Linked DNA regions of Homo sapiens: regions 1 and 3 are each linked to region 2. Evidence: fine-mapped expression QTL. A gene starts in region 2. Each other region holds a variant in brackets. All regions are shown on one strand. Distances are from middle to middle. Region 1 holds the start of MIR3135A (microRNA 3135a). Region 2 holds the start of SGO1-AS1 (SGO1 antisense RNA 1). Region 3 overlaps KAT2B (lysine acetyltransferase 2B).

Evidence for each region. PIP is the estimated chance that this variant, and not a neighbour inherited with it, causes the effect.
Region 1: its variant is fine-mapped to the expression of SGO1-AS1 in whole blood (TOPMed, PIP above 0.99).
Region 3: its variant is fine-mapped to the expression of SGO1-AS1 in whole blood (INTERVAL, PIP 0.98).

Annotation. Positions count from the first base shown.
Region 1 is chr3:20,134,959-20,146,194 of GRCh38, forward strand. KAT2B (lysine acetyltransferase 2B) reads left to right here. Exons shown (of 18, transcript NM_003884.5): 12 at 1,984-2,094; 13 at 5,263-5,406. MIR3135A (microRNA 3135a) reads left to right here and starts at 2,607; the gene lies at 2,607-2,683. RefSeq lists a silencer at 6,185-6,385. The variant G/A (reference allele first, on the strand shown) is at 6,103.
Region 2 is chr3:20,169,375-20,177,374 of GRCh38, forward strand. It overlaps SGO1-AS1 (SGO1 antisense RNA 1), which reads left to right and starts at 4,912. Exons shown (of 4, transcript NR_132785.1): 1 at 4,912-5,151; 2 at 5,361-5,444; 3 at 7,843-7,876. It overlaps SGO1 (shugoshin 1), which reads right to left. Exons shown (of 8, transcript NM_001199251.3): 5 at 7,227-7,285; 6 at 4,875-5,681; 7 at 1,669-1,858; 8 at 110-1,441. The coding sequence ends at 1,330.
Region 3 is chr3:20,057,907-20,069,142 of GRCh38, forward strand. All of the region lies in intron 1 of KAT2B (lysine acetyltransferase 2B), which reads left to right. Among named protein-coding and RNA genes, the nearest start is that of KAT2B, 23 kb to the left of the region's middle. RefSeq lists an enhancer at 1,007-1,176. The variant A/G (reference allele first, on the strand shown) is at 6,028.

The sequences.
Region 1 (11,236 bases), 33 kb before region 2:
TGTGTTTTTATACTTCAGGACATTTCAAACTGGACTAGTCTCATATCAATTGCTCAGTAGCCACATGAGGCTAGTGTCTACTCTGTTGAATAGTATACCTCTATACACATGTGTTTATATGTTTATCTTCCCCATTTTACTATCGTCTCCTCAAGGAGAGAAATAGTTCATTTGTGTTTTTATCCAAGTTTTATTCAAACTCTCAGTGTTCAGTATTGTGATATGTTTGGGAAAAGTTAAAAGCTAAAATGTCTTTGGGTGACATCAATGGAAGAATAATTTGCAGAAGAGGGAGATGATGATACTGTTCTGTTTACTAGACATACCGTCCCCTTATTATTATGCTTGGTCCTAGGATCCATGCTTTAGAAAGGCATTGTTATATTAGAAAAAACTCCGAAAAAAGTGATTAGTGGCCGGGCGCGGTGGCTCACGCCTGTAATCCCAGCACTTTGGGAGGCCGAGACGGGCAGATCACAAGGTCAGGAGATCGAGACTATCCTGGCTAACACAGTGAAACCCCGTCTCTACTAAAAATACAAAAAATTAGCCAGGTGTGGTGGCGGGCACCTGTAGTCCCAGTTATTCGGGAGGCTGAGGCAGGAGAATGGTATTAACCTGGGAGGCAGAGCTTGCAGTGACCCGAGATCGTGCCACTGCACTCCAGCCTGGGTGACAGAGCAAGACTCCATCTCAAAAAAAAAAAAATAAAAACCAAAGTGATTAGTTTGATAAGGTGTCATTCAGTCATGCCATATGAGGAATGACTATAGCCTTGATGGTGCTTGGCTTGGGACTGGGAAAGTACGGATGGGCATGTGTGAGAGAGCATAATCTTCAAAGGCTTGAAGGGCTGTTAAAAGCAGGAATGAGTCTTTGTAACTCTAGGAGTAGAACTAAGGTCAATAAGTAGAAATAACAATGACCAGATCTTGGGTGAACGTTAGGAAGGAATTCCCAACTATATGATGCCTGAAAATGAATTGGTCTATCTCACCACCAAGGAATTGGCCTACGTTGGCGGTGTTCTAGCAGATTGCCTTTTCATGATAGATGGCAAAAGACCTCTAGCCTCATATGGATTAGGGGGTTAGATAGAATGACTTCCAAAGATCCTTCTGACCTTGAGGTACTGTGATTCCATGAGATCATACCTGGGAATATATTTGAGTTCTTTAGAAAAATGTGCCACCAAATTGCAGAAAATTTATGTGAAGATATTTGGGTCTGGACACTTGGATTTACTTTTATCTCTCTTTATGAGGTTCCAAAACAATCACATTAGATTTACACGTTTTCTGTAAGCTTTGTCACTGAAAAAACTTGATATTATAAAAATATTTCAATGACTGAGTTTATTCAACATTGTTGACTACCTTTAGTTACTTTCTAATGTCTTCTGGCTGATTCAGAGATTCTGGGCTTCTCAGACCTTACTTGGAAAGGTCTGATAAGACCAAATTTAAAATGCTATGTATGTGATGATTCAGTTCTTTAGAAGGGTTGCCAGTTTGTGGTGTACAGTAAACACTTGGATTACTAAATATTCTAGTGAAGATTAGCACTTTTCATTTGCATCTTTTTTTTTTCTTCTGAGATTCTCAAATACCTTAAAGATAAGCAGAAATTCATAATCTACATTCATTCTGAAAACTTTTATATTACTATTCAGCAAGTGATCTTTAAGATTGAGCTAGGAACTTGTGGCCCTGGTGTGTTATTTTCAAATAACTAGAAACTTACATTTTCAAATGATGATTTTTATCTTTGAAGCAAGGATTTTGATTTTGTTTTGGTTTTATAGCTTATTTTCAAAGTTAAGAAACGCAAGAAAGGGTGTTAATATATTTCATTCAGGAAAGGTCCTGGTTGGTAAAATATGTAAAAGTACAAACTTCTGAATTCACCATCATTTCCTGATGGATTTGTAAAAATTTTTCTCCCCAGTCTAATGTATTTGTTTGTATACTAACTTCCACACAGGGCTATGGAACACACCTGATGAATCATTTGAAAGAATATCACATAAAGCATGACATCCTGAACTTCCTCACATATGCAGATGAATATGCAATTGGATACTTTAAGAAACAGGTTGGTTTCTCACCACGCAACACTGTTTTGTCACTCCTTTTCTTAATATGTTCTCAGGTAGCGTTCTTCCAAATAAGTTTCTCCCCCAGTGTTTTCTACTTATAAGAACAGGCATTTGTTTTACAAGCCTTATGTCAAAAATAAGCTTCAGCCTGGATTAGAGAGTGTCACTAGCACATAGTAAGTATTGAATAACTATTTGTTGAGAGAATGAATGAATGTCACCTGTCAGTGAGGTATAATATTGCATCCTAACATTCTAAAATATGGTTTCTAATAAGAAATTCCCAGTCCTGGAATTTGGTGGGTAGCATTCTCTGTGAATGAGAAAAACAGATTCAGTTTCTGGAAGGCCTCCATTTATGACAGCAGAAAGGAAATCCTGGAGTTTATAAAAACCTGCAAACAGTCCTGATTCTACAGCACATAGTGGGCTAGGAGCTTGGCTGTCATCTTTGCAGTTCCTTCCTTTCTCCGTTCCTCCCTTCCTTTTTTTTTTTTGAGACAGGGTCTCACTTTGGTGCCTAGGCTGAGACTGCAGTGGTGCAATCTCAGTTCACTGCAGCCTTGACCTCCTGGGCTCAGGTGATTCTCCCACCTCAGCCTCCCAAGTAGCTGTGACTACACCCAGCTAATTTTTTGTATTTTTAGTAGAGACAGGGTTTTGTCGTGTTACCCAGGCTGGTCTCGAGCTCCTGGACTCAAGCAATCCACCCACCTCGGCCTCCCTAAGTGCTGGGATTATAGGCGTGAGCCACCTCACCAGGCCTCTGTCCTAGCAGTTTCTTATCAGAAGTTTTCAGCTCAGGCCAGGTGCAGTGGCTTATGCCTGTAATCCTAGTACTTTGGGAGGCCAGGGCAGGAGGATTGCTGTGCTCAGGAGTTTGAAACAGCCTGGGCAACATAGTGAGAACTTGTCTCTCTTTAAATAAGTCTTAAAATAAGTTTTCAGCTCAGCTTTTTGAGGACTATTCTTTGACTGCATATTATTTTTAATAGTGATTTATAATTCCTAAACATTTTCATTTACTTTTCTGACTATAAAAGTAATGTGTAATCATTGTAGAAAATGTAATAAAGCAAAAGAAGGAAAGAAAAATGGCTTGTAATTCTGTCACCCCAAGAAATTTACTGTTAATGCTTTGATTTTTTTATTTTAAAATTTTTTCTGTTATTTTTCCTCTCAGCTCATACCTATGCTGTTAATGCTTTGACATAAATCTTTTTAGTATTTTTTCTGTGTGTATATAAACATAAAAGTTGGTTCATACTGTGTATATAATAATTTTGGTGGTTTCCTAGGATTTTGTTGTAGAAATAGAAAATATTTAACCAATACATTTTTGACTAGGTGTTTCTTGTAGGTAATGTGCATGTGTATGGGTGTGTGTTTGTGTACATGTTTTGCCCTCATTGATGGTAATTTGCTTAGAATAAATCAAGGTTTTTGTAATGTGTTGCTAAATATTTTAAAAATTTCCATTTTTGTCAGCAGTGTATAAGGGGGTCAGGAAAGGAGTTGGTAACTGAAAAAAAATTTACCACTTTTCCAGATAATAAATTGTGTATGTTTGAATTTATTTATGTGAAGTTTGATTTATTTTTCCATGTTTATCAATTCTTTGTATTTGTTCCTTTTTTGGATTGCTAATTCATTTTCTTTTGTCCCTTTTTCTATAAAAATGTTTAGTTGTACATTGATTTGTGAGAACTATTAGTATATAACTATATTAACCTTGGATAATATTTGTTTCAACATTGCTTATGGCTTTTTCTTTAAATCTTCAGAATGTTAAAGATGTTATTACATAAAATCTATTGACTTGTTTTGGTTTGGATTTTGTTTGTTTGTTTGTTTTGAGACAGGGTCTTACACTGTCACCAAGGCTGGAGTGCTGTGGCATGATCATAGCTCACTGCAGCCTCAACCTCCTGGGCTCAGGCGATCCTCCTGCCTCAGCTACCTGTGTAATTGTGACCTCAGGTGCATGCCACCATGCCCAGCAATTTTTTTTTTTTAATCATTTGTAGAGATGGTGAGGGGTTGGGAGAGAATCTTGCTATGTTGCCTGGGCTGGTCTTGAACTCTTGGACTCAAGTGATCCTCCTGCCTCAGTCTCCCAAAGTGCTGAGATTATAGGCATGAGCCACTGCACCCAGCCAGACTTCTTTTTTTTTAAAAATGTGTTCTTATGTAATTAGAAAGCTTTTTGTGCTCTGAAGACAGATAAATAATCTCCTATTTATTATCTTCTCATTGTTTGAGATGCATTTTAACTTTTATGGTAAAACTCACTGAGAACTTAATTGGATTGTTTCACTGAGGTCTTGAGCATCAGCTTTCCTCAGCTGTAACTGTAGTGCAAAGCATAAGATCTCAGCTATGGTTCTTAAATGACTTGTCTGTAGTCCTCTTTGAGGATGATGGCAATAATTACTTGGAAAATAAGTTTTTGTTGAAAGATGAGGCAGTGAACTGCTGGCGATGGTGCTGAAGTTCAAGAAATTTTCTGCAAATAACTGAAATAGATACTTAAGGCAAATTATGTTTATATTATAAATATATTATTTATAATTTTGAATATATACTCTGAAGCAGTCTGTTATTATGGCTTAAAGTGTGTAAATGAGTATATTCCAAAGCATTAATGTCATTGAAACAACCACACATTGTGACTGTCTGGAATTTTTTTGCCTGCAAAGAAAGGATTTCATTTCCTCAGAAACATTAAGTTTCTAATCACTTTATTTTTTTGACCATCTTTTCTTTGATAATTTAGATCAATGTTAGTTATTGATTTGCTGAGAATCCTGGGGACCCCCTCACCACTTTTGGAGAAATTTGCAACGGTCATATTTAATTATGTAATTCAGTACAAAATTAAACCTAATTTTTACTTAACACCTGTTTCTGTTTTAAACTTTTTAATATTTCTTGCATTTTATTAGGGCCATTTAAAAAATGTTGTCTTGCTTCCTATTTACACAGTTAGATTTCTGGTGTTTTTGAACTTCATGGGTGGTTTTAAGCTAATCCTCTTCAGAATAGTACAATGAGAACTTCAAAGAAGCTTGTCTTGATTCCTCACACAGTGCCTGGAACATAGTTAGCACTCAGTAGATATTTGGTGTATGGTGTTCATATGAATGAATTTACTTGCTTTTCAGGGTTTCTCCAAAGAAATTAAAATACCTAAAACCAAATATGTTGGCTATATCAAGGATTATGAAGGAGCCACTTTAATGGGATGTGAGCTAAATCCACGGATCCCGTACACAGAATTTTCTGTCATCATTAAAAAGCAGAAGGAGGTAAGCAGGTGGTTGACTCCCTTACCTTCTGTACAGGCCAGTCTTAGCTGGGGTGGGTTGCATTTCCTTGGGTGCTGCGTGTATGTGTTTACTGGATAGCAAACTCTCGGTTTGCTGTGGGTTATCTAGATTTCTTCTCTCTCTCTTTTTTGACACAGAGTCTCTCTGTCACCTAGACTGGAGTGCAGTGGCACTATCTCACTGTAACCTCTGCCTCCTGGGCCCAAGCAATCCTCGTACCTCAGCCTCCCGAGTAGCTAAGATTACAGGTGTGTGCTACCATGCCCAGCCAATTTTTCTTATTTTTAGTGGAGACAGCGTTTCACCATGTTGGCCAGGCTGGTCTCGAACTCCTGACCTCAAGTGATCCACCTGCCTCGGCCTCCCAAATTGTTGGGATTACAGGTGTGAGCCATCGCTCCTGGCCATAGATTTCTTTAAAGGTATCCTTGATCTGTTTCCTTTCTCGGTTACCATTTCTACAAGAGTCATTACTTTTTAAATTTGTGTAAAATACAAAATATGTAAAATACAAAATATGTAAAATATGGTGACATATTTTAACTTCACCTTCAAGCCATTTTGCATTCTGGCCTCAATTATTGTTCCCACTCTTATCTCTTTACTTTCATCTCCAAATACTCCAAGTGCATCTATTTACTATTCTCCAAAGTGTCTTTGTCCATTAGCCACCCC[G/A]TTCACTCAGCACACACATAAATCAAACCGTTTCAGGGTGTGTTCCAGTTCCTCTTCTGAACTTCTCTAGCACCAGTTTGATCCACCTATTTGAATTTCAGTTATTCATCTTACATAGACATTTACCTTACTGTATATTAATCTCTGCTTTTACTTGGCAAGTTCTGAAGGCTTATCCTTCTAGGTATTAAGTGATTTGTTATCTGGTATTGAGGTGACTTTTTTTATGCATATGAATGAAAAGAGAAGCAGTAAAAGGGAAAGGTTGACAGAGTTGAATACATAATAATTTCAAATTTTCTAAGGCAGAAAAAAAAAACACTCATGATGAAAAGAACAGAACTGGGGAGTACACAAAGGCCATTTATTGAAAGAAAGAACTTTGTGTGTTAAGTCCAGGATCACCTCCTGGCTGCTCCCAGTTGGGTGGAGTTTGCAGCTGTGTCATCCCACGTCAATTCCACTTGATACTTCTGTTATTCGTTTAGTGCACTTTTCTCTAACAAATAGCTTAGGAGGACATCTGTCTTATACCCATCTTTGTTTTCTGGTTTCTACTAACCTCCTTAATCCCAGTTCTTAGTTTTTTGTTAGGCATTATCTACCTAACAGCCCTAAAGCTTTTTACACAGTGTCTGGTGCATAGTAGTTACTCATTAAGTATTTTTCTTTTACTTAAAGTGGCTCAGTCTTGTTCTTGTGTTTCCTGGGGAAGTGAGCAAAGGCTTTTTTTTTTTTTTGGAAAATACAAACAACTTTTGTTGCTTTTTGTTCAAAGATGTCAGCCTAAGAGAGAATTCCAAGTAGGCACTTGGAAGAGTTAATAAAGCACAGCGGGCTCCTCTCTCTCCCTGTCTCTCTGAAGAGCTGGCTTTCCTCATTGTTCTCTCTGGAGCTTAATGAGCAGGTCTGGATTCAGCAGCACATCGTTCCGCATTAGAGGCTGCTGGCCAACTAAAGCCATCACCCCGCTGTCAGCTGCTCTTTCCTCATTCCTCCTCCCAGCAGCACTAATTCATCCCCACGGTGTTAGCTGAGAGCAGGATTCCCTTGGCAGAGTCTGCAAATTCACATTGTACATGATCTGTTGGCCCTTCAAACCTACAGGGGAACGCCAGAAGCGCAGAGCTATTTTAGATGGCTAACAAAGCAGTCAACTTTTTAGAAGCCAAGGCTCCCTCCCCATTCTTTTTTCTCCTCTCCTCCCCCTCTGCCTCCAGCCTTCCCTCACACATTCCGTTGAATGGGTGATGGAGGTTTGGAGATCTTAACCTAGTTTTTAAAAAAGCTATCTGAAGTCACTTCAATAAAAATATATTTGGATTCATGTAGTATTTTTTTCCACAGAATTCAGTTGATTTTTTATAAGTATTATTTGTTCCAACTGTGAAAAACCCCTCAAGGAAGGTAGGGATTCATGGTGGCAGCAAAGAAACAGTGAATATTCTGAGGCATTTCCTAGCCCCTAAAAGTATACAGGAGCAGAATAAGTTGTAGTTGTCATTAGTAGAGAGAGAGAGAGAAAACTAGTATAGTTGGACAGGTGGACCAAGAGTGGAGAGTTAAGTGCTACTTTGTGAGTGTTGACTCCAAGGGAAAGGTAGGATCTGTAGGGGCCTCATGTCACCTGACAGGGCTTTGTGGGACATTTGTTTTGAACTGGGCAGCCTGGTGATGAAATCTGCATTAGCAGAGGCTCAGAGTCCAATGGAAACAGATTTGTGGGCACATGAACAGGTAGGACCATTGTTATGTCGGTGATGAAGGCACTATTTGAGAAAGCGCGAATAGGCTATGAGCAAGCATAATTGGGTATCTATGTGCCTGTGTGTGTGTGTGTGTGTACGTACATATACCTATGTACATGTATGTGTGGATAGGCTGGGTGGTGGGTGGGGGGATAAGTTCTTAAATCTTAATCTACATGTGACAATACAAGGAATTGGGGTTGGAGAAGCCAAAGTAAGGATGGGGAGACTCAATGCAATTTTTTTATAAGGAGACATGCAAAGACTGGGTGATGTATTGGAGATGGGGAACTACTCCACTGAAATTTTCTGCTTTGGGAGACCCTAAAACTGACAGCAGTAGATCATAGGACTGAGCTGTGGACTTCAGGAGAAGAAGATGAGGACATACTTTCATTTGGAAGGCATTGATTTTATCGTCATGGTAGGGAGTTGAAGATATTTTCTAGGGAGGTGAAGTTAATACACTAGAACACAATGAAAATATCTCCTTTCTGAGATGCAAGTCAAAACCACAATGTGATACTATCTCACACCAGTCAGAATGGCTATTATTAAGAAGTTAAAAAAATAACAGATGTTGGCAAAGCTGTGGAGAAAAGGGAATGCTTATACACTCTTGGTGGGAATGCAAATTAGTTCAGCCCCTGTGGAAAGCCGTTTGGAGATTTCTCAAAGAATTAAAAATAGAATTACCATTCCACACAGAAATCCTATTACTGAGCATATACCCGAAGGAAAATAAATTGTTCTTACAAAAAGATACATGTGCTTTTATGTTCATTGCAGCGCTATTCACAATAACAAAGACATGAAATCAATTCAGGTGCCCATCAAAGGTAGATTGGATAAAGAAAATGTAGTACATATACACCATGGAATATTATGCAGCCATAAAAAAGAACAAAATCATGTCCTTTGCAACAGTGTGGGTTTAGCTGGGGCCATTATCCTAAGCAGATTAACACAGGAACAGAAAACAAAATACTGCATGTTTTCTGTTATAAGTGGGAGCTGAACATTGGGGATATATGCTCACAAAGATGGGAACAGTAGACACTGGAGTTTCCAAAAGAGGCAAGAGAGGGAGAGGAGTAAGGGTTGAAAAACTACCTGTCAGGTACTGTGCTCACTACTTGGGCAGTGAGATCATTAGAAGCCCAAACCTCAGCATCACACAGTATACCCATAATACCCCCTGTATCTAAAATGAAAACAATAAATTAAAAAAGATCTCTTCTCCATACTGATTACTAGAGGTACAGAGAGCTTAGGACGCCTCCCATTCCCATTAACAGTCACTTCTCAGGAGCCCACAATCTTTAAGGTGCTACATGAGGTGAGTGGAAGCCATCTGTAGGTCATTGCATTTGAGAGTCCCTTGGTGAAGAGAAGGAAACTTTCAAATTGAAACAGTCTTCAGCATATTCTCTGAAGGTGTCGATTTAAGAGATTGCCCTTGGGATTCTTTTTTTTTTTTTTTTTTTTTTTTTTTTTTGAGACAGCGTCTCACTCTGTCACCCAGGCTGGAGTGCAGTGGCATGATCTTGGCTCACTGCAAGCTCTGCCTCCTGGGTTCGCACCATTCTCCTTCCTCAGCCTCCCGAGTAGCTGGGACTACAGGCACCCGCCACCATGCCCAGCTAATTTTTTGTAATTTTTAGTAGAGAAGGGGTTTCACTGTGTTAGCCAGGATGGTCTCGATCTCCTGACCTCGTGATCTGCCCACCTCGGCCTCCCAAAGTGCTGGGATTACAGGCGTGAGCCACCAAGCCCAGCCAGGTTTCTTTTTTCTTTTTTTTTTTTAAGATTTGGACTTATAATAAATAAATGGACTTAAAATAAATAAATGGAAAGCACCCATCTAGATCAGCCTTGTCAAAAGTAGCAGTCACTAGCCACATGTGGCTACTGAGGACTTGATATGTGGTTAGTCAAAATTAAGGCATGCTGTAAGTATAAAATCCTCTGATTTTCATTTCTTTCTTTTTCTTTTTTTTTTTTTAAGAGGAAGTCTCGCTCTGTCACCCAGACTGGAGTGCAATGGCACAACCTTGGTTCACTGCAACCTCCACCTCCCAGGTTCAAGCAATTCTCCTGTCCCAGCCTCCTGTGTAACTGGGATTACAGGCGTGCACTACCATGCCCAGCCCATTTTTTGTATTTTTAGTAGAAATGGGGTTTCACCGTGTTGGCCAGGCTGGTCTCGAGCTCCTCACCTCAAGTGATCCACCCACCTCGGCCTCCCAAAGTGCTGGGATTACAGGTGTGAGCCACTGCACCTGGCCAATCCTCTGATTTTCAAGAGTTCATATGAATAAAGCAATGTAAAATATCTTACACTTTTTTCCAATTGTATGTTACAATGACATTTTAGATATAATGGGTTAAATGAAATACATTATTAAAATCAATTTCACCTGTTTCTTTTTGCCTTTTAAAAATGCGGCTAGTAGAAAAATTTAAATTACATGCGTGGCTTGTATTATGTCTCTATTGGACAGCACTGATCTAGATTTACTAGGAATATACTTTTACTAGTCCCATTCATTTTATGAAGTTATTTGTTTAACTGTTAGGATTACATATTCATGCTGCAGTATTTACCAGCTATATGTTTGAAATCAATCAGGAAGTAGATTTTTTTGTTTTCCTTTGTGAATGCAATTAGTGATTTCTATTGTTTTGTTTCGTTTTTCCAAAATTTCGTTATGATATGTTTAATTTCCGGATGGGATTTTTTTAGTTTTTTTTTTTTTTTTTTTTTTTTTATTAAAGGGATAACCTCACTGTCTTGGAAGTAGTTACCTCAGCATATTAATAATTATTTTACAAAACAAACAAAACATCTCTCAAAATTTCTCAGTCAGTGTGATGGCTTATGTCATGGTTGTGTTGCTTTAATAGATGATACTTTAAATTGCATTATTCTTTTCTTTCTTCTCATGACAGCCTACTATTATAGAGCTGCTTTTTTGATGCAGCCAGAATAGGTTGGAGGTCCAGCCTTGAAAAATTTAAATAGTAAAGCTTTAACAACTGTAGGCTTTTGGGACTTTCTGGGGCCCGTTTACCTGCTTCTCTAGTCCGAAGGGAACAGTTCCTAGTTATGGGAAGTGAAGAGGTTCTGTCACTTGACTGAGTAGTGAATGCTCAGGGCTGCTTTCCTGTAATTCTGGCAGAGCCTCCTCAGAGAAGCAGGGCAAAATAATTGGCTCTTATGCTACAGATGACAAGTGGGCCCTAGGGGCTGTGTGTTTTCTCAATATTGGCTTTTCTGGATGTCAGGGACAAGTAACTCAAAGATGTTTTTGTGAATGTCACTAAATAGACATGGTATAATATAATCTGTTCATTTCTTACTTGTTAAATAGCATTCACCCCTT
Region 2 (8,000 bases):
AAAAAGAGAATACCAAGGGGAGGGGAGAGGAAATGTCCAAGGATGAGAATAGTGAAGACAGAGAGATACTCTATTTTTGATATTTAAAGAATAGAAGGAAAGCAATCACTATCTTATACAAACTTTATTGCTCTTTAAAAATGAATAACCTACAAAGTTCTAAAATTTAAAGAGGTATATACAAGTATAGACATCAAACTTTCTAAACTGAACTAATTCGCTTTCATTGGTTGGTCAAAAATATGCAAAAACCCTAAATATTCACACATTTAATCTCTGAGATTTCTGACTAAATAAGGAGCTACCCTGAAAGTACATGACATTTGTAATTTTATGGAGACATCACTCTGAACATACAATTAGAGCTTGGGGTTCACAATTAGTCACTTATCTTGTCCCTGAGCCTAAAAAAGAATCAATTTCTCTAGTCATTTTCCCATACATATTTTATCTGAAAAATTAAATATAACAGTGGTATAAGGAATTCATAAACAACTTAGGGTGTACCCTACTGTAAATGTCAAATATTTATTTTACTCGAATACTACACAGAGTTTCAAAAGATCCACAATAATTTATTTTACTCAAATATTGTACTAAAGAGTTTCAAAAGATCCTCTTAGAAAATCATTCACTTTAGTATCCCCTACTTAAGGGAAAAATAGAGATGCCAGAAGCTTATAATTAAAAGATCTTATTTGAGTAATCATTATTCATTTCTACAATGTTTGTATAAGATACATTTTGGGCTGGGCACAGTGGCTCAGTAATCCCAGCACTTTGGGAGGCCGAGGTGGGCAGATCACCTGAGGTTGGGAGTTTGAGAGCAACCTGACCAACATGGAGAAACCCTGTCTCTACTAAAAATACAAAATTAGCCGGGCGTAGTGGCACATGCCTGTAGTCCCAGCTACTCGGGAGTCTGAGGCAGGAGAATCGCTTGAACCTGGGAGGCGGAGGTTGCGGTAAGCTGAGATCGTGCCATTGCACTCCAGCCTGGGCAACAAGAATGAAATTCCGCCTCCAAAAAAAAAAAAAGATATATTTCGACTAAAATTAAGAGGTTTAGGCAGCATAAGAAATCGATATGATGATAATGCTTAAGCTCAGTTATTTATATTCAAAAGAAAAAATAAATTAAATTTATTAAAGTTTTAATACAAAGCATCCCATTTGAAGTATAGTTCTGAAGAAATGTTTATGAGCTAGGGTCCTGTCAAGAGAATATTCTATGGCAATGGCTCACTCTGTTTGTGTACTCTTACAGATCCTCTCCTGAAGCAACAGAAAGAGGTGTAGATTGAATTTAAACAATATCCAACAAAACCTTCATTGTATTTGTTTCATACTTTTTTTAGAACGTCTCAAATCCTTTTTCTGCTTGAAAATAGGAGAATTCAAAAAACACAAATCTGTAAAAGGGTCCCCTCTTCTCAGTTTCCTGTAAGAGTAAAAAGAGATCTCAGGCATAATGTAAGCATCCCAATATTAACTTACTCTTCCCTACCAAGTTATGGTAAAACACACCAATTTTAAATGTTCTCACTTCAGTTTTTTTAAATCAAATGTTTATATTTCAGAAAAAACTCATTCTTGAACAAAGCTCCATAACCTTATTCCCCCCGACATGTATCATTAAAAATAAGTTCCCACAAACCAAATACTTACGAAGCGAGGGTGGGCTCCTTATAGTTCACGCTGGCTGTGCACCTACGTTTAGGCAGAGCCACTGCTGGGCTTGCTTTATTCTTTTTTGGAGAAAGAGAAAGTCTTCTGATTTTCACAACAGGATACAAGGAGACATTGGTGATATCCTTCAGGCTAAGATGAGGTGACTGCTGAGTTTCAGGTGGTGTAGCTACAAAACAATTTTTACTGAATATGATTTAAAAAAAAAAACCCACACAAAAACTTAAATTGTACTCAATTGTATATATCTTAACTGTACACAAAATCCAGCATTTAATAATAGAATTTTTTTTTAGATGGGCTCTCACTGTGTTGCCCAGGCTGAAGTGCAGTGGTGTGATCTCAGCTCACTGCAACCTCTGCCTCCTGGTCTCAAGCAATCCTCCCACTTCAGTCTTCCAAGTAGCTGGGACTACAGGTATGCACCACCATGCCCAGCCAATAATAAATTCTTTTTTTAGCTTTTTCATCATTTTTTCCTCTTCCTTTCAAACCAGACAGTGTTGAAATATTAATTATAACAGAACACTTTACTAAAACTTAAAATTCTTCTAGGATAGCTTGGGCATAATAACTTTGTTTAACCATGGAATTTCATTTTAGTCATACCTTGCTATTTGGAATCAAGTCCTCTCTCTTTCAATACCAAGGTTTATTATCAAGTCTCTTCCTATAGTCTTATAAAGCCGCTAAAACTCCTTCTATTAAATAAATGAGAATTCTAAATAACAGCCTCTGTGTACACCAGGAGAAAAGCTAGCATGTAAAAAAGTTACTCAGTGTTTTTCCCATCATAAACATCCAAGTTATTATACTTTGAAGTTACACCTATATTGGGAGGCAAATGTCCAACACATAGTAAAGACACTGCAAAACAATCTCCTCAAATAGCTTTAAAAAGCAAACTGTATCCCCAAAAAAGTAAAAACTATAACTGTGAAATGATTGTATACTAAGAGCCATATGCTCCAGTGTTATCTGGGTTTTATAGTCTGTCCTTTTTGTTCCCACATAAATATACTGTACTGTATTAATTATTCCAACTTTCAGTTTGAGAAATATGTTGTTTGGAACAATATCAGATCAGTTGCTATATTCTGGAAAAATGCTTCTCAAACTTTAATGTGTATATGAATCCACAGGAGGACTTCTTAATGGCCAGGCACGGTGGCTCACGCCAGTAATCCCAGCACTTAGGGAGGCCGAGGTGGGCGGATCACCTGAGGTTGGCAGTTTGAGGCCAGCCTAACTAACATGGAGAAAGCCTGTCTCTACTAAAAATACAAAATTAGCTGGGCGTGGTGGCACATGCCTGTAATCCCAGCTACTCGGGAGTCTGAGGCAGGAGAATCGCTTGAACCCAGGAGGCGGAGGTTGGGATGAGCTGAGATCGTGCCACTGCACTGTAGCCTGGGCAACAAGAGTGAAACTCTGTTTCAAAAAAAAAAAAAAAAAAAAGATGCAGATTCTGACTCCACGGTATGGGGTATGGCCTGAGATTCTGCATTTCTTAAAAGACGTCTAGGGATTAAACTCTGAGTAATACCATTTTAGAGTATATTTTTTTCGTTTAAAAACGTATTTTTTATGTATTTTATGTATTTTTATGGATACAGGCTCACACATCTGTAATCCCAGCACTTTGTAAGGCCAAGGCAGGAGGACTGCTTTAGCCCAGGAATTTGAGACCACCCTGGCAACACAGTGAGACCTCATCTTCACAAAAAGTAAAAAAAAAAAAAAAAAAAAAAAATTAGCCAGGTGTGATGGCGCATGCCTGTAGTCCCAAGTACTGGGGAGGCTGAGGTGGAAGAATCACTTGAGCCTGGGAGGTTGAGACTGCAGTGAGCCATGACAGTGCCACTGCCCTCCAGCCGAGGTGATAGAGCAAGACCCTGTCTCAATTAAAAAGTGAACAACAACAAAAAAATCCCAACTTTTTCTGGACATTTTTAAATGTACACAAAGATGGCAATAACAGTATAATAAACTCTGAGTTACCCAGGTCCAATAATTATCAACACTTTGACAATCATGTTTGATTTATTCTAACATCATTATAGCATTTTTGCTTTTTTTTTTTTTGAGACTGAGTTTCGCTCTTGTTGCCTAGGCTGGAGCGCAATGGCATGGTCTCGGCTCACTGCAACCTCTGTTTCCTGGGTACAAGCAATTCTTTTTCTCCTGCCTCAGCCTCCCGAGTAGCTGGGATTACCGGCACATACCACCAGGCCTGGCTCATTTTTTTGTATTTTTAGTAGAGATGGGGTTTCACCATGTTGGCCAGGCTGGTCTTGGACTCCTGACCTCAGGTGATCCGCCCACCTCAGCCTCCCAAAGTGCTGGGATTACAGGCGTGAGCCAACCCGCCCGGCTTACAGCATATTTTTAAAAAAGATACTTGCCTGCTACCACTGACTAACTGGCCGATTTAGAAAGTTGGTTTGGTTTTTAAGGTTTTAATCTCCTTACAAACAAAATAAGCATCATAACACCTATACTTCACAGAATTGTTCTGAGGATCAAATAAAATGATGTGACAATATTTTGAAAATGATACAACTTGACTATAAATGTTAGTTTTACTTGTATTAACTAAAATTGCCAAATGAGAATCTTTGTGGACAGGTGTAGGTTGTATTACGAACATTTGAACTATGCCTACTTTTGATCTAATAAAATATTTTCTGAGCCAGTTTTTAGAGATGTCGTACAAAAGAATACTAAGCCTATCAATTGAGGAAATCTTCACTAACTAGAAGATTATTTTAAATCACGGTTCCTGTCAAATTTAATATAAAACAAGGCCATTAAAATAACAAGTCACTGGATTCAAATTTGATTTCACTTTCAAGGGGATACTTCAGTTAAGTGTATAAAAGCTACTTCAATTCAACCTAAGTCTACAAAAAAGTCCCTCTGTCCCCTTGGGAGTCCTAATTTACTGAAAATAAAAATTCTGTCTCCATAACAAGCAATCTCTGAATTAGGTCAGAGCAATACAACTGTGATTTCCACACCCAGCCCCCCACTGTTTAATCAGACCATAACTTCCACCAAAGAGAGACAGATGGTAAGTCTCCAACCTCCACCAGAGAAACAGATGGTAAGTATAGTATATAAGCATCAGGAGTGATCATTTATCACGAACATTAAAAATACAGGTAAACAAGTAGATCACTTACTGGTAGGAGTTTTTGTTGGCTTAGAACCCTCCGTCTCTTTTTCATCTGTGTATTTCAGTGCTCTTTTAGCTAGAGGCCTGGTGACTGGTCTATCTGAATTGCTCGTGGGATTCTGAATGTACTTGCAAGTGGGCAAATAGAGGTCATCGGAATCATCTCCTGAACCACTTGATTCACAGAGGCTCACTTCAGACTCGTTGTTTTCTTCTCTATTAGAGTCATTGCTCACTTTTTGTCGGAAAGGAGTAAGATGAACACCCTCTTCCAAATTAAAATTGTAAGCATCATTGGAACTGACAGATTTGTGCATTTTTTTTTGGGGAACAGTTTTTTTATTTTCGCTTTTATTCTCTTTATATTTTGACATACGTTTTGATTTTCTCCTGTTAGCTTTTCTTTTCTCTTCTCTTTTTCTTTCTTGTGTATCTCTTTGCTTACTTTTAGTTTGTTCAGATTTAGATTCTAAAATGTCTTCTTTTGTTTTAGTAAACGTTCCTGGCTGAATCAGCTTTGGTGATAAGTTAACTTGGTCCTTGCTCCATTGACAAGCATTGTGTTGTACATTTTCAGGTATGTGCATGTTTACTAGTGGGTCTAAAAATCCAACTCTTTCGAATTCAAAAGACTTCCCTGCCAAATGACTGGTTTCAAAATCATCCAAGCTATCAAACTGACATATACTGTTACAATGTTTCTTTAAACTGCTACGAACAGATACAGTTCTAGGTAAGACATTATCAGTAGACTTAGCTTCACCTGAATCAAAATCAACTCCCAGTGTGTCTTGAGGAATAGTAGGTATCTGATCTGAGAATTTAAAAAATAAATGAGAAAAGTAGTTTTACTTTGTGGAAATTTGAATTTCAAGAACTTTAGAATTCAAACTAAAAAAGTGAATGACCAAAAGGTCATTCTGTAGTTTTCCTACATTATAAAATCTGTAAATAAAAACCTGGGAACTTAAATATTACCATCTATTTACTTGTCAGTGATCAACTGATGGCTTATATCTGACATGTGAAAGAATCTTGTACAGGTTCAGTATCCCTAATCTGAAAATCTGAAATCCAAAACTTTTTTAGTGCAGTCATGATGCTCCAAGGAAATGCTAACTGGAGGGTTTTGGATTTCAGATTTTCAAATTAGGGATGATGAACTGATATAATGTAAATACTCCAAAATTTAAAAAATAAATCCAAAACACTTCTGGTCCCAAGCATTTTGGATAAGGGACATTCAATCTTTATAATCTTTAAAAACATTATAGGCCAGGCACGGTGGCTTACGCTTGTAATCCCAGCACTTTGGGAGGCCGAGGCGGGCAGATCACGAGGTCAGGAGATCGAGACCATCCTGGCTAACACAGTGAAACCCCGTCTCTACTAAAAAAAATACAAAAAATTAGCCAGGCGTGGTGGTGGGTGCCTGTAGTCCCAACTACTCGGGAGACTGAGGCAGGAGAATGGCGTGAACCCAGGAGGCAGAGCTTGTAGTGAGCTGAGATCGCACCACTGCTCTCCAAGCCTGGGCGACAGAGCAAGACTGTCAAAAAAAAAAAAAATTATAACAGGCTTTTATGTGCTCTTGGTTTAAAGAAAATGAATAGTCTATATGTATCATTGAGTACAGATTCAGAGAAGTAGAACCGCATATTCCAAAGTGGGACAAATGAGAAAGTGGGAGCTAAGTTGTTCTTTGAAAAATAAATAAGATTTGAATAACTAGAAAGCTTCTCAGGTAAGAAATATAATTTGTATTTTAAGGAAAAGTGGGGCTATGTCTGGTTTTGCTTATTCAAATACTATCCTTCCTTCGACGTCTGGTTTTGCTTATTCAAATACTATCCTTTCTTCAATGCTTGGTTCAAGTGGAGGAGATTGACACTTGAGAACATGGACATATCAATTTAAAAGTAGTAAGAAAGGGATGGCTTTGGAGTTCAACTTTGATTTTAAATGCTAGCTGTTAACATCTAGACTTCTTCATGTGAGATATTTTACCTTCTTGAGTTCCTATAAAACAGGACTAACTGTACTTATAGTCCTAGGTTGTTGTGAGGGTTAGGTGAGATTATGCACATAAAATGCCTAACATAGAGCTTGACACGTAGTAGCAATCAGTAAATTGCTGCCATAGTTATAGCCAAAGATTCAGATTACAGATTTGACACAATAAATATATTTTAACACTCTATTACTCTGTGTAAAATAAACAGATTTGCTTTGAGCAGAATACCAGATGAACAAATTTAAAAAGTTAAAAAAAAAGAATTAGATAAATTTAATTGTATTATTTGTTCTCAAAGACCTTATTTTGCCCTTAATAATATTTTTAGATTTTCACTTGAATTACCTTCTATTTGAAATGATTCTCCTTGTCCTGGAAGTTCAGTTTCTTCAAGAGGAATTTGCCTTAGAAAATACCAATGAAAAACAGAAATTTAACAATTATGTAATAAAAACAAATTCAGTATTTTCCTAAATTATAATTTTTCTTTCCTTTAGTATCATTTCATAATTCGATTTCAAATCAATACATCTATTCTGTATCAAAGGAAACCAAAGGACACTTATGCTGATTACAGGGAGACTGATTTGTTATGACTGACATTCAATTCCCACTTGAAGAACCAACCTATCAAGTTGGAGAGTTCCACCTGAAAACACATTATATAACTCAATTTAACTACGGAAACAGCCCATGAGAATTAATTTGTTAAATGTTTTTTAAAAAATGTAGTTTGATCACTCAACTCTTTAGGAGCCTGCTTTATCATTAGCAGAGCTGTGATTTGTTGGTAATATATGCTTTTATGGTGCTTAACTATTGAACTCTTCTGAAGTTAACATTGTTCATTTTCTTTACAAATGTTGTTCTTTGGTTCATGAAACATGAAGTGTTCTTTATACTCTAACACTATTACTGGCAGTTTCATTCTAATTGTAATTTTATTCTTTATTCTCTGTAGAGAATTTTCTACTCTAGACATTAAACAGATTTAGGTAAGTAATGGCTGTGGTAAATAATAACTACTTTAGAAATCTTCTACAAATTCAATTACCTTATCTTACCTTTTGCCCACAACAGATCTTAAAGTACAACAGTTTAAAAACTACTAATGATTAA
Region 3 (11,236 bases), 110 kb before region 2:
TTCAACTCCAGCATAAACACAAGGATTTCTTCCAGACAGGGATGTCATGAAGATTTTCTGTTGATTTGATTTTGGAGTAACCATGGAGAGCATAGATGAGAAGAATTTGAATGAGGTGTTTATTTATACCTGGGTTGTTTTGTCTTGGGTCATTTCCTCATGATATGCTTTCCACTCTCTTTCTGTAGCCTTGACCACTCTTTAATATTTGTTTTTTTGATTCCTTGTGGCTTCACAGACCAAAATGGCACTCATAAATTAAGGTATTCAGCCAGGTGCGGTGGCTCACGCCTGTAATCTCAGCACTTTGGGAGGCCACGGCAGGCAGATCACCTGAGGTCAGGAGTTCAAGACCAGCCTGGCCAACATGGTGAAACCCCGTCTCTATTAAAAATACAAAAATTAGCTGGGTGTGTTGGTGGGCAATAATCTCAGCTACTCGGGAGGCTGAGGCAGGAGAATTGCTTGAACCTGGGAGGCGGACATTGCAGTGAGCCGAGATTGCGCCACTGCACCGTAGCCTGGGCAACGAGCGAGACTCTGTCTCAAAAAAAAAAAAAAAAAAAAAAGGTTTTCAGAGATGCTTCTGATAGTGAATTACCTCACTAGTTATCTTTTCTCTCTTACAATTCTATTTCTATCTCAATCCCAGGCAGTTTTGTTCTCCTGAGGGAACCCTGATCCCCACCCTGTATACTTTCCTCTTTTCACTTGTGTCAGATTTTTAAAGTTCCCATAGTTTAAAAATCCCAGCTTGAAGTCATAGCATTATGGTATCTTCTGCTGGCCTTCCATGTACAACTGTGTGAACTGGAAGGATTGTCACACAGTGGAGGAAGAAAAAGGGCTTGTGTCCCAGGGAAGGATTACTGAACCATTTAATCTGTATATGAAAAGCTAAAGTTAATTCAGGGAGAAGAGAAAGGTGTTGCTGAAGTCAAACCATCTTTATCTCTTCAAATCTTGGCTACTCAAAGAGTGGTCTTCACCCAGGAACTTTTAGAAATGTAGAATCTCAGGTTCCACCCGACACCCACTGAATCTTAATCTTCATTTTGATGAGATCTCCAGGTGATTCCTGAGTAGATTGGAGTTTGAGAAGCACTACTCCTAATTACATCAGCATAATTCAAACTGCTCATTTCCAAAGAGAAAACTTCTGGCAATCCCAGCTGCTTACAGTGGACTCCAGGTGTTGTTTTTTAAAAATATTATTAAAATATCTTGCTGGGCATGTGGCTCACACCTGTAATCCCAGCACTTTGGGAGGCTGAGGTGGGCAGATCACTTGAGGTCGGGAGTTCGAGACCAGCCTGGCCAACATGGTGAAACCCCGTCTCTACTAAAAATACAAAAATTAGCCAGGCGTGGTGGCATGCGTCTAGTAGTCCCAGCTACTCGGGAGGCTGAGGCAGGAGAATCGCTTGAACCTGGGAGGCGGAGGTTGCAGTGAGCTGAGATCATCATGCCACTGTACTCCAGCCTGGGCGACAGAGACTCTGTCTCAAAAAAAAAAAAAAAAAAAAAAAGGCCAGGCGTGGTGCCTCACGCTTGTAATCCCAGCACTTTGGGAGGCCGAGGCAGGTGGATCACGAGGTCAGGAGATCGAGACCACGGTGAAACCCCACCTCTACTACAAATACAAAAAATTAGCCAGGTGTGGTGGCGGGCGCCTGTAGTCCCAGCTACTTGGGAGGCTGAGGCAGGAGAATGGCGTGAACCTGGGAGGTGGAGCTTGCGGTGAGCCGAGATCGTACCACTGCATTCCAGCCTGGGCGACTGAGCGAGACTCCATCTCAAAACAAAAACAAAAACAAAAAAAACTTTACTGAGTTATGATTTAGGTACCATAATATTCTCTAGTTTTAAGTGTACAATTCAATGATTTTTAAGAAATTGACAAGTTGTACAATCATCACCACAATCTACCTTTTAGAAGATTTCCATCACCTCCAAAGGATCCTTGGGTCCATTTACAGTTAACCCTGTTCCTACCCCCCACCCCAGATGACCACTAATCTTTCTGTCTCTATAAATTTGCCTTTTCTGGATGGTCATGTAAATGGAAGTATACAGTATGTGGCCTTTTATGATGGGCTTCTTATGCCGAGTGTAATGTGTTTGAGATACATCCATGTTGTAGCATATGTCAGCACTTCTTTATCTTTCATTGCAAGTAATAATCCGTTATATGACTAGAACACATTTTGCTTATGCGTTAACTAGTTGATGGGCATTTAGATTATTTCTGCCTTTTGGCTATCATGAATAATGTTGCTGAGGCATCTGCATGCAAGTCTTAGTATGGATATATTTCTGTTTCTCTTGGGTAGATACTTAGTGGATTTGCTGGGTCATGTGGTAAATTTATGTTTAACTTTTTGAAAAAATTGTTGTTTCTTAAAAAACTGTGGGCTGGGCATGGTGGCTCACGCCTGTAGTCCCAGTACTTTGGGAGGCCAAGGCGGGCGGATCACCTGAGGTCGGGAGTCTGAGACCAACCTGACCAACAGGGAGAAACCCTGTCTCTACTAAAAATACAAAATTAGCTGGGCATGGTGGTGCATGCCTGTAATCCCAGCTACTGGGGAGGCTGAGGCAGGAGAATCTCTTAAACCCAGGAGGCGGAGGTTGCAGTGAGCTGAGATCACGCCATTGCACTCCAGCCTGGGCAACAAGAGAGAAACTCTGTCTAAAAACAAACAAACAAACACACAAACAACAAACTGTGGTAATGCTGGGCATGGTAGCTCATGGCCTGTAATCTTAGTACTTTGGGAGGCTGAGGTGGGAAGATCCCTTGAGTCCAGGAGTTTGAGACCAGCGTGAGTAACATAGTAAGACCCTGTCTCTACCAAAAAATAAAAATAAAAAATAAAATAAAATAAATTATCCAGGTGTAGAGGTACATGCCTGTGGTCCTGTCTACTCAGGAGGCTGAAGTTGGAGGATTGCTTGAACCCAGGAGGTTGAGGTTGTAATAAACCATGATCATGCCACTGCACTCCTGGGCAACAGAGTGAGACCCTGTCTCAAAACAACAACAACAACAACAACAACAAAACTGTGGTAAAATATAGATGATCTAAAGTTTACCATCTGAACTATTTTTAAGTGTCTAGTTCATTGGTATTAAGAAATTCACATTATTGTGCAATCATCACCACCATTCATCCACAGAACACTTTTCAGCTTGCAAAACTGAAACTCTGTGTTCATTAAACAGTAACTCCCTCTTCCTTCCTCCAACCCCTCGGCAACCACCATTCCTATCTCTATGAATTTGGCTACCATAGACACCTTATCTAAGTGGAATCATACAGTATTTGTCATTTTGTGACTATTTTACTTAGCATAACATTCTCAAGTTTCATTCAGGTTGTGGCATGTGTCAGAGTTGCCTTTCTTTTTAAGGTTATATAATAGCCCTTTGAATGTATATACTACGTTTTACTTATTTATTCATCTCTTAAGGGATGCTGGGGTTGCTTGGACCTTCTTGCTGTTGTGCTTAATAATGATACTAGGACATGGGTGTCCAAATATTTCTTTGACTTCCTACTTTCAATTCTTTTGGGTATATACCCAGAAGTGGAATTGCTGCGTCATATAGTAATTCCATTTCTAATATTTTGAGGAACTGTCATACTGTTTTCCATAGCAGCCATACCATTTTACGTCTTCAGCAGGAATATTCAAGGTTTCCAGTTTCTCTACATCCTCTCCAACACTGTTTTCTGTTTCTTTTGTAGTAGCCATGCTAATGGGAGTGAGGTGGTATTTCATTGTAGTTTTAATTTGTATTTTCATACGTATATATGAAAAAATAATATATATGAAAAAATATATTATACATAAAAATATATAATTTATAATACATAAAATATATTATATATTATATATTATACATAAAGTATATAATATATAATATACATAAAATATATATAATATACATAAAATATATAATATATTTGTATAAAATATGTATTATATATTATATATAAAATATGTATTATATATCATATATAAAACATAATATATATTATATATAAAACATAATATATATTATATATAAAACATATAATATATAAAACATATAATATATATTATATATAAAACATAATATATATTATATATAAAACATATAATATATATTATATATAAAACATATAATATATATTATATATAAAACATATAATATATATTATATAAAACATATATATATAAAATATATAATATATAAAAATATATAATATATAATATATATAATATATAATATATAAAATATATATATTTTATATAAAATATATTATATATAAAAATATATATAAAATATATAATATATAAAATATGATATATAATATATAATATATAAAATATAATATATAATATATAAAATATAATATATATAAAATATTTATTATGTATAAAATATAATATATAATATATTTTATATATAATTTATAATATATTATATATAACATAATAAATTATATATTATATATTATATATTATTATATATAATATATAATATATAGAAATTATATATATTTTATTTTATATATATATATATTAGAGGTAGTTTTGCTCTGTCACCCAGGCTGGAGTGCAGTGGCATGATCTCGGCTCATTGTAACGTCTGCCTCCTGGGTTCAAGCGATTCTCTTGCCTCAGCTTCCCGAGTAGCTGGGATTACAGGCATGCGCCGCCACGCCCAGCCAATTTTTGTGTTTTTAGTAGAGACGGGGTTTCGCCTTGTTTGCCAGACTGGTCTTGCATTCCTGAGCTCAGGTGATCCACCTGCCTCAGCCTCTCAAAGTATTGGGATTACAGGCGTGAGTCACCGTGCCTGGCCCATTTTCATAATTATTAATGATGTTGAGCATCTTTTCATGTGTTTATTGACCATTTGTATATTTTCTTTGGAGAAGTGTCTGCTCAAGTCCTTTGCCCATTGTAAAATTTCGTTGTTGTTGTTGTTGTTGAGTTGTAGGCATTCTTTATATATTTTGGATATTAACCTGTTATCAAATATATGGTTTGCAAATATTTTCTCCCATTCTCTGGGTTGCCTTTTCACTCTGTTGTGTATGTCTTTTGGTGCACAGAAATTTAAAGTTTTTCCTAATTCCAGTTTATCTGTTTTTCTTTTGTTGCCTGTGTTTTTGTTATTTATTTTTAGACAGTATCTTGCTCTGTTTCCCAGGCTGGAGTACAGTGGCACAGTCATGGCCCATTGCTGCCTCGAATTCCTAGGCTCAAGGGATCTGCCTGCCTCAGCCTTCTGAGTGGCTGTGACTGCAGGCGTGCACCACTATGTCCAGCTAATTTTTAAAATTTTTGTAGAGATGGAGTCTTGTTTGTTGCTCAGGCTGGTCTTGAACTCCTGACCTTCCCAGCGTGCTGGGATTATACACCTGAGCCACCACACCTGGCCGCCTGTGCTTTTGGTATTATATCCAAGACACCATTGCCTGATCTAGTATCATGAAGATTTTTTCTGTATTTTCTTTTAAGAGATTCTTTCTTTCTTTCTTTTTTTTTCTTTTGAGATGGGGTCTCGCCCTGTTGCTCAGGCTGGAGTGCAGTGGTGCGATCTCACCTCACAGCAACTTCTGAGTAGGCCTCTTTTTTTTTTTTTTTTTTTTTTTTTTTTTTGAGATGGTTGCTCTGTTGCCCAGGCTGGAATGTAGTGGCACAATCTCAGCTCACTGCAACCTCTGCCTCCCAGGTTCAAGCAATTCTCCTGCCTCAGCCTCCCAAGTAGCTGGGATTACAGACGTGAGCCACCATGCCCGGTTAATTTTTGTATTTTTAGTAGTGACAGGGTTTCACCATGTTGGCCAGGCTGGTCTTGAACTCCTGACCTCGTGATCCAACTGCTTCGGCCTCCCCAAGTGCTGGGATTACAGACGTGAGCCACCACGCCCGGCCGAGATTCACAATTTTATGTTGAAGTCTTTCATCTATTTTGAGTTCATTTGTGTGTGTGTTATTAGCTAAGGGTCCAGCTTCATTCTTGTGCAC[A/G]CAGATACCTAGTTTTTCCAGCACCATTTATTGAAAAGACTGTCCTTTCTCTATTGAATGGTCTTGGCACACTTGTCAAAATCATTTGACCATTATCTGTGAGGGTTTATTTCTGGGCTATCTATTCTGTTCCATTAGTATATAAGAAGCTAGCAAACTGTTTTCCAAGGTGGTTGTACCTTGTTACATCCCACAAACACTGTATGAGGATTCCAATTTTTCACATGCCTGATAATTTGTTATTGTCAGCTCCTTTTGAAAAAAGAACTTATTTTGTGTTTAATTGACACCTAATAATTATACATATTGATGGGGGCATAGTGTGGTGTTTTGAAACATGTATACATTGTGTAATGGCCAAATCAGTGTAATTAGCATGTTCATCACCTCAATCACTTGTCATTTCTTTGTGATGAGAACATTCAAAATCCTCTCTTGTAGCTATTTTGTAATATGCAATATATTATTGTTAACTATAGTCACTCTGCTGTGCGATAGAACACCAGAATTTACTCCTCCTATCTATATTTGGTTAGAGAGATCTTATTGGGTGAGAAGTTACGGTTTTGATCCTTGACATTTAAACATTATGACTTTGTCCAGCATGGAGCAGAGAGGTAGTGAATAAGAGTGAGTCCTTCCTCTCTCACAACCACAGTGCCAGTTACCTGCCTGGACACATTTTGTGCATCTGCAGGGTAGAATGAGTAACCCCAGGCAAGTCTCTTATCACCTAGAGCCTCAGCTTTCTCTTTTAATAATGGCAATAATTCATACTTTACTTACATCGAGTGAGATAAGAGTACATGTACATTTTTAATTTTGGGTGCTAAATAAATGTTGGATCAGTTATACTGAATAAATTTTCCATCAACGTGTTCTTGCTGTGGGACATCCTTGACACTAATTTAAGTTTTCCAACAAATGCGACTTTCCAATATTTTAAGCATGACAGAATTTTGCTAGACAGCTGGCTGTCTTTCTCCTGTTCCTCTGGATGCCACTCAAATATCTTCACACCCATCTCACTCATTAACACTGCGTGAACTGTGAGCTCTCCACCCCTTGTCTGTCTGTAATCTGGGTTGTGACTACTTGTTTATCCAGTTTATCTTCTTTCTCATCATCCATCCTGGTTTCTGCATACTATAACAACATCGGTTGCATACTATTGACCTCTAACCCTGGATCCTGTTGGGATGAAAACATTATCCCAGTCCTGTTGAAAGTAGTGCAGTGGCCTTTTCTTCTTTCTTGGTTCTGCAATGTCTGCAGAGATGTGCTCTTGGGGGGATGAAGTCATCTGGGTAGCTTTCCCCTCCCTGTGCCCAGGTTGCTAGCTGCTACAGTAATTGGCTTGGCAGTGCACTCCCTAAAAGGTTGTCCTTCAGCTGGTACTTCATTAAAGCTGCAAGGCCAACTCCCTTGGGAGTTCCCTTAGACAGCAGCTGTCATGCCTAATTAAGGAGAGACATGGGAAAGGTGTTTTGAAAGGAGACCTCTTATCTCGAAGAACAGTGGCCAGGCCTGAACATTGGAATGGGGAGATGAAGGCCAAAGTGGAGGGCATGGTAGCAGCAGCTCAGAAAACTTGGCAGAAAATGCTTTGCTGGCAGTCAAGGATAAGAGCATTGACTGTTTTTTAAAGGACACAGTATGTCCTTTTTAGCAAATCAAGTAACGAGTCCCATATATATTAAAAATTTTGTACACTTAGGTTGTTAGGTGTCCCATGGAGCATGCACACATGCAAGAACCAATTTTCATATCCTGCAAAAAATACTGAAACAAGTAAGGAAAACTCAAGGGATTCTCATATATATCAATAGGGTATAACTTTAAAGAGTTAGGACCACTTAGGGATGCTGAGACTATTCTATGCTTAAACTGTTAGGGTCCATAGTGAAGACCTGGGGCTTGGGGGTGGAGTCCCTTTATAGTCTAGTGCACCAATATCCAATAGTAATATGGAGGCCGCATGTATTATTTAACATTTTCTAGTAGTCCTGTGTATTAGTTTCTTAGGCCTGTCATAACAAATAACCACAAAATATGTGGCTTAAAACAACAAATACAGTTTTTTTTTTATTCACAGTTTTGGAGGCTAGAAGTCTGAGATCAAGATGTCATCTGGGCCACACTCCTTTTGAAGGCTGTAGGGAAGAATCTTTCCTTGCCTCTTCCTAGCATCTGGTGGTGCTTGGCAATCCTTGGCATTCTTTGGCTTATAGTGAGACCCTGGTCTGTCTCATAGTGAGATCCAGCCTCTGCTTCTATCTTCACTTGGCCTTCTTTACTGTTTGTCTGTGTCTGTCTCCAAATCTCCTTCTTCTTTCTCTTAGGAAAACGCCAGTCATTGGTTTTAGGGCTTAGGATAATTTCATCTGCATGTCCTTAACTGATCACATCTGCAATGAACCTATTTCCAAATATGGCCCCATTTTGAGGTTCCAGGGGAACATGAACTTTATTTATTATTATTATTTGAGACAGTCTCACTCTGTCACCTAGCTGGAGTGCAGTGGTGCCATCTCAGCTTACTGCAACTTTGGCCTCCTGGGTTCAAGCAATTCTCCTGCCTCAGCTTCCCGAGTAGCTGGGATTACAGGCATGTGTCACTATGCCTGGCTAATTTTTGTGTTTTTATTAGAGACAGGGTTTCACCATGTTGGCCAGGCTGGTCTCGAACTCCTGACCTCATGTGTGATCCTCCCACCTCGGCATCCCAAAGTGCTGGGATTACAGGCATGAGCCACCGCACCTGGCTGGGACATGAACTTTAGGGCACACACTATTTAACCCACTGCACCGCATTAAAAAAAAAAAATCAGAAAAGCCAAAAATTTAATTTTATTAATTCTAATTTTTACTTTAACTGAATATTTCAAAATATTATTATAATATGTAATCAATATAAAATAATTCTTAATGTGATATTTTAACATTTTTTAATACGAAGTCTTTGAAATTCAGGGTGTATTTTCAAACACTCATAACACATCTCAATTTTTATTGCCAATTTTTAAAGACTCCGTATTCGCTTGTGGCTGGCTGCCACATCTTGGACAGCACAGTTGGAGTGCTGCGGGGCTGACAAAACTTTTATGCTTCTCAGTGTTTCACCCCATGTTGTCTCCCTCTCTTCATTCCTCTTAGTTTTCAGGGAATTTTAATTTGTTTGGGAAGTCTCAGTCATTATGAACAAAAGAAATAAAAATATACTTTGTACTGGGATCCCAAGACTCAGTGGAGGAAGTAAAATCAGCCAGTTTTGAAAGAAAAGATCTTTATTCAGTTACATTTTTAAGCATCAGTGTTTATTGTATGGTAGAATTCATTAAGCACTCTATCACAAGTGGTTTCAACACGTGCGGTTAATATTCAAGATGTAACTTTTTTTTTTTATTGAGTAGGGGAAATATAAGACCTTATTATTACAGATCTCCCTGCCATGAGATTTGTGACTCACCCATTTATGAGCCCCCAGTGAACACAGCCATTATTCTCTGTCATGTTAAGACAAGAAGGGGCATAAATAAACTTTTTTTCTGGGCTGACTGAACTTAGTCTGTTGCAACAATGAAGTTAAGATCTATATCTCTAAAACTCTGTGTTGTCTTCTCCAAGAATTTAAAGCTTGTTACTTGTTAGCATGCATCTCAGGGCAAGGCAGAGTTTTATAAGCAAGCCCATAGGAAGAAAAGTTTTAGATCCTTGAATTCTTTCTTTATTTATTTTTTTATATTTTTTTAAACTTCTGAGACAGGGTCTCACTCTGTCACCCAGGCTGGAGTGCAGTGGTGCGATCTTGGCTCACTGCAACCTCTGCCTCCCAGGTTCAAGCGATTCTCCTGCCTCAGCCTCCCAAGTAGCTGGGATTACAGGTGCCCACCACCACACCTGGCTAATTTTTGTATTTTTAATAGAGATGGGGTCTTGCCATGTTGGCCAGGCTGGTCTCGAACTCCTGACCTCAGGTGATCTGCCTGCCTTAACCTCCCAAAGTTCTAGGATTACCTGTGCCTGTCCCGTCTGGCTTAATTTCATTTCTTTTTTCTTTCTTTCTTTTTTTTTTGTTTTTGAGGCAAGGTCTTACTCTGTCACCCAGGCTGGACTGCAGTGGCGCAATCTTGGCTCACTGCAACCTCTGCCTCCCGGGTTCAAGCGATTCTGCTGCCTCAGCCATCTGAGTAGCTGGGATTACAGGTGTGCACCACCATGCCGACTAATTTTTGTATTTTTAGTAGAGATGGGATTTCACCATGTTGGCCAGGTTGGTCTCGAACTCCTGACCTCAGGTGATCCGCCTGCCTCGGCCTCCCAAAGTGCTGCAATTATAGGTGTGAGCCACTGTGCTTGACCCTGTCTGGTTTAATTTCAACACGTCTTTACCCACTGCGCTGTAGCCACATTGGCCTTTACTTTCTGTTGAGCAAGCCAGGCACTCTCTTGCCTTTGCGCTAGCTGTGTTTCCCTTATACTAGATACCTAATGACCAACTCCCACCTTTCTTCAAGTCTTTGCTCTAAGGTCATCTCAAAAAGTCCTAGTTAAAATTATACCTTTTATCCCACCCTCTGCTAAGTTCCCTGTACTCATCCTTTTTTCTTTCTTTCCATAGCACCATCACATTCTCCAGTATATTCTATAATTTACTCATTTGTGTTAATCTTGTTTTCCCCATCCCCGGCTACCCCTAATGTAATCTCCAGGAGAGCAGAATCTTTGTTTCATAGTCAATAGTACCTGGCATGTAGTAGGCCTCAATAAATATTGTTGAAAGAATGAGTCAGTGTGCATAACTGCTTGGCTTGAAATGCTGTTCTCCAAACTCAAGGTGTTTTTGGTTATTACTGTTTTTTCCTTCTAGGTTTGGCCTGCCATATTTAATTGCTTTGTTGGGGCCATTTAGTCATTTTTCTTTCTCTAACTTAAGGTCCTTTGGGAAAGGGCTGTGGATCAGACCAACTATTCAGAAAAGCTGGAGGCTTAGGGAGTTCCTGGAAGTAGCTATGCGGCAACTAAGAGAGGTTGGCCCACAATAAGGGTGGTTTCCTCTGACTCTACAAAATCTTAGTGATACTTTTGTAGGGGAAGAAAGCTGTTTTCCCTTTACCATTTTAGGTGCATTGGTTGGGGCCCTGTCAGTCAGACTAACAGAATACATTAACAAGAGAAAAACAAAAACAAGTTTATTGACATATTCATT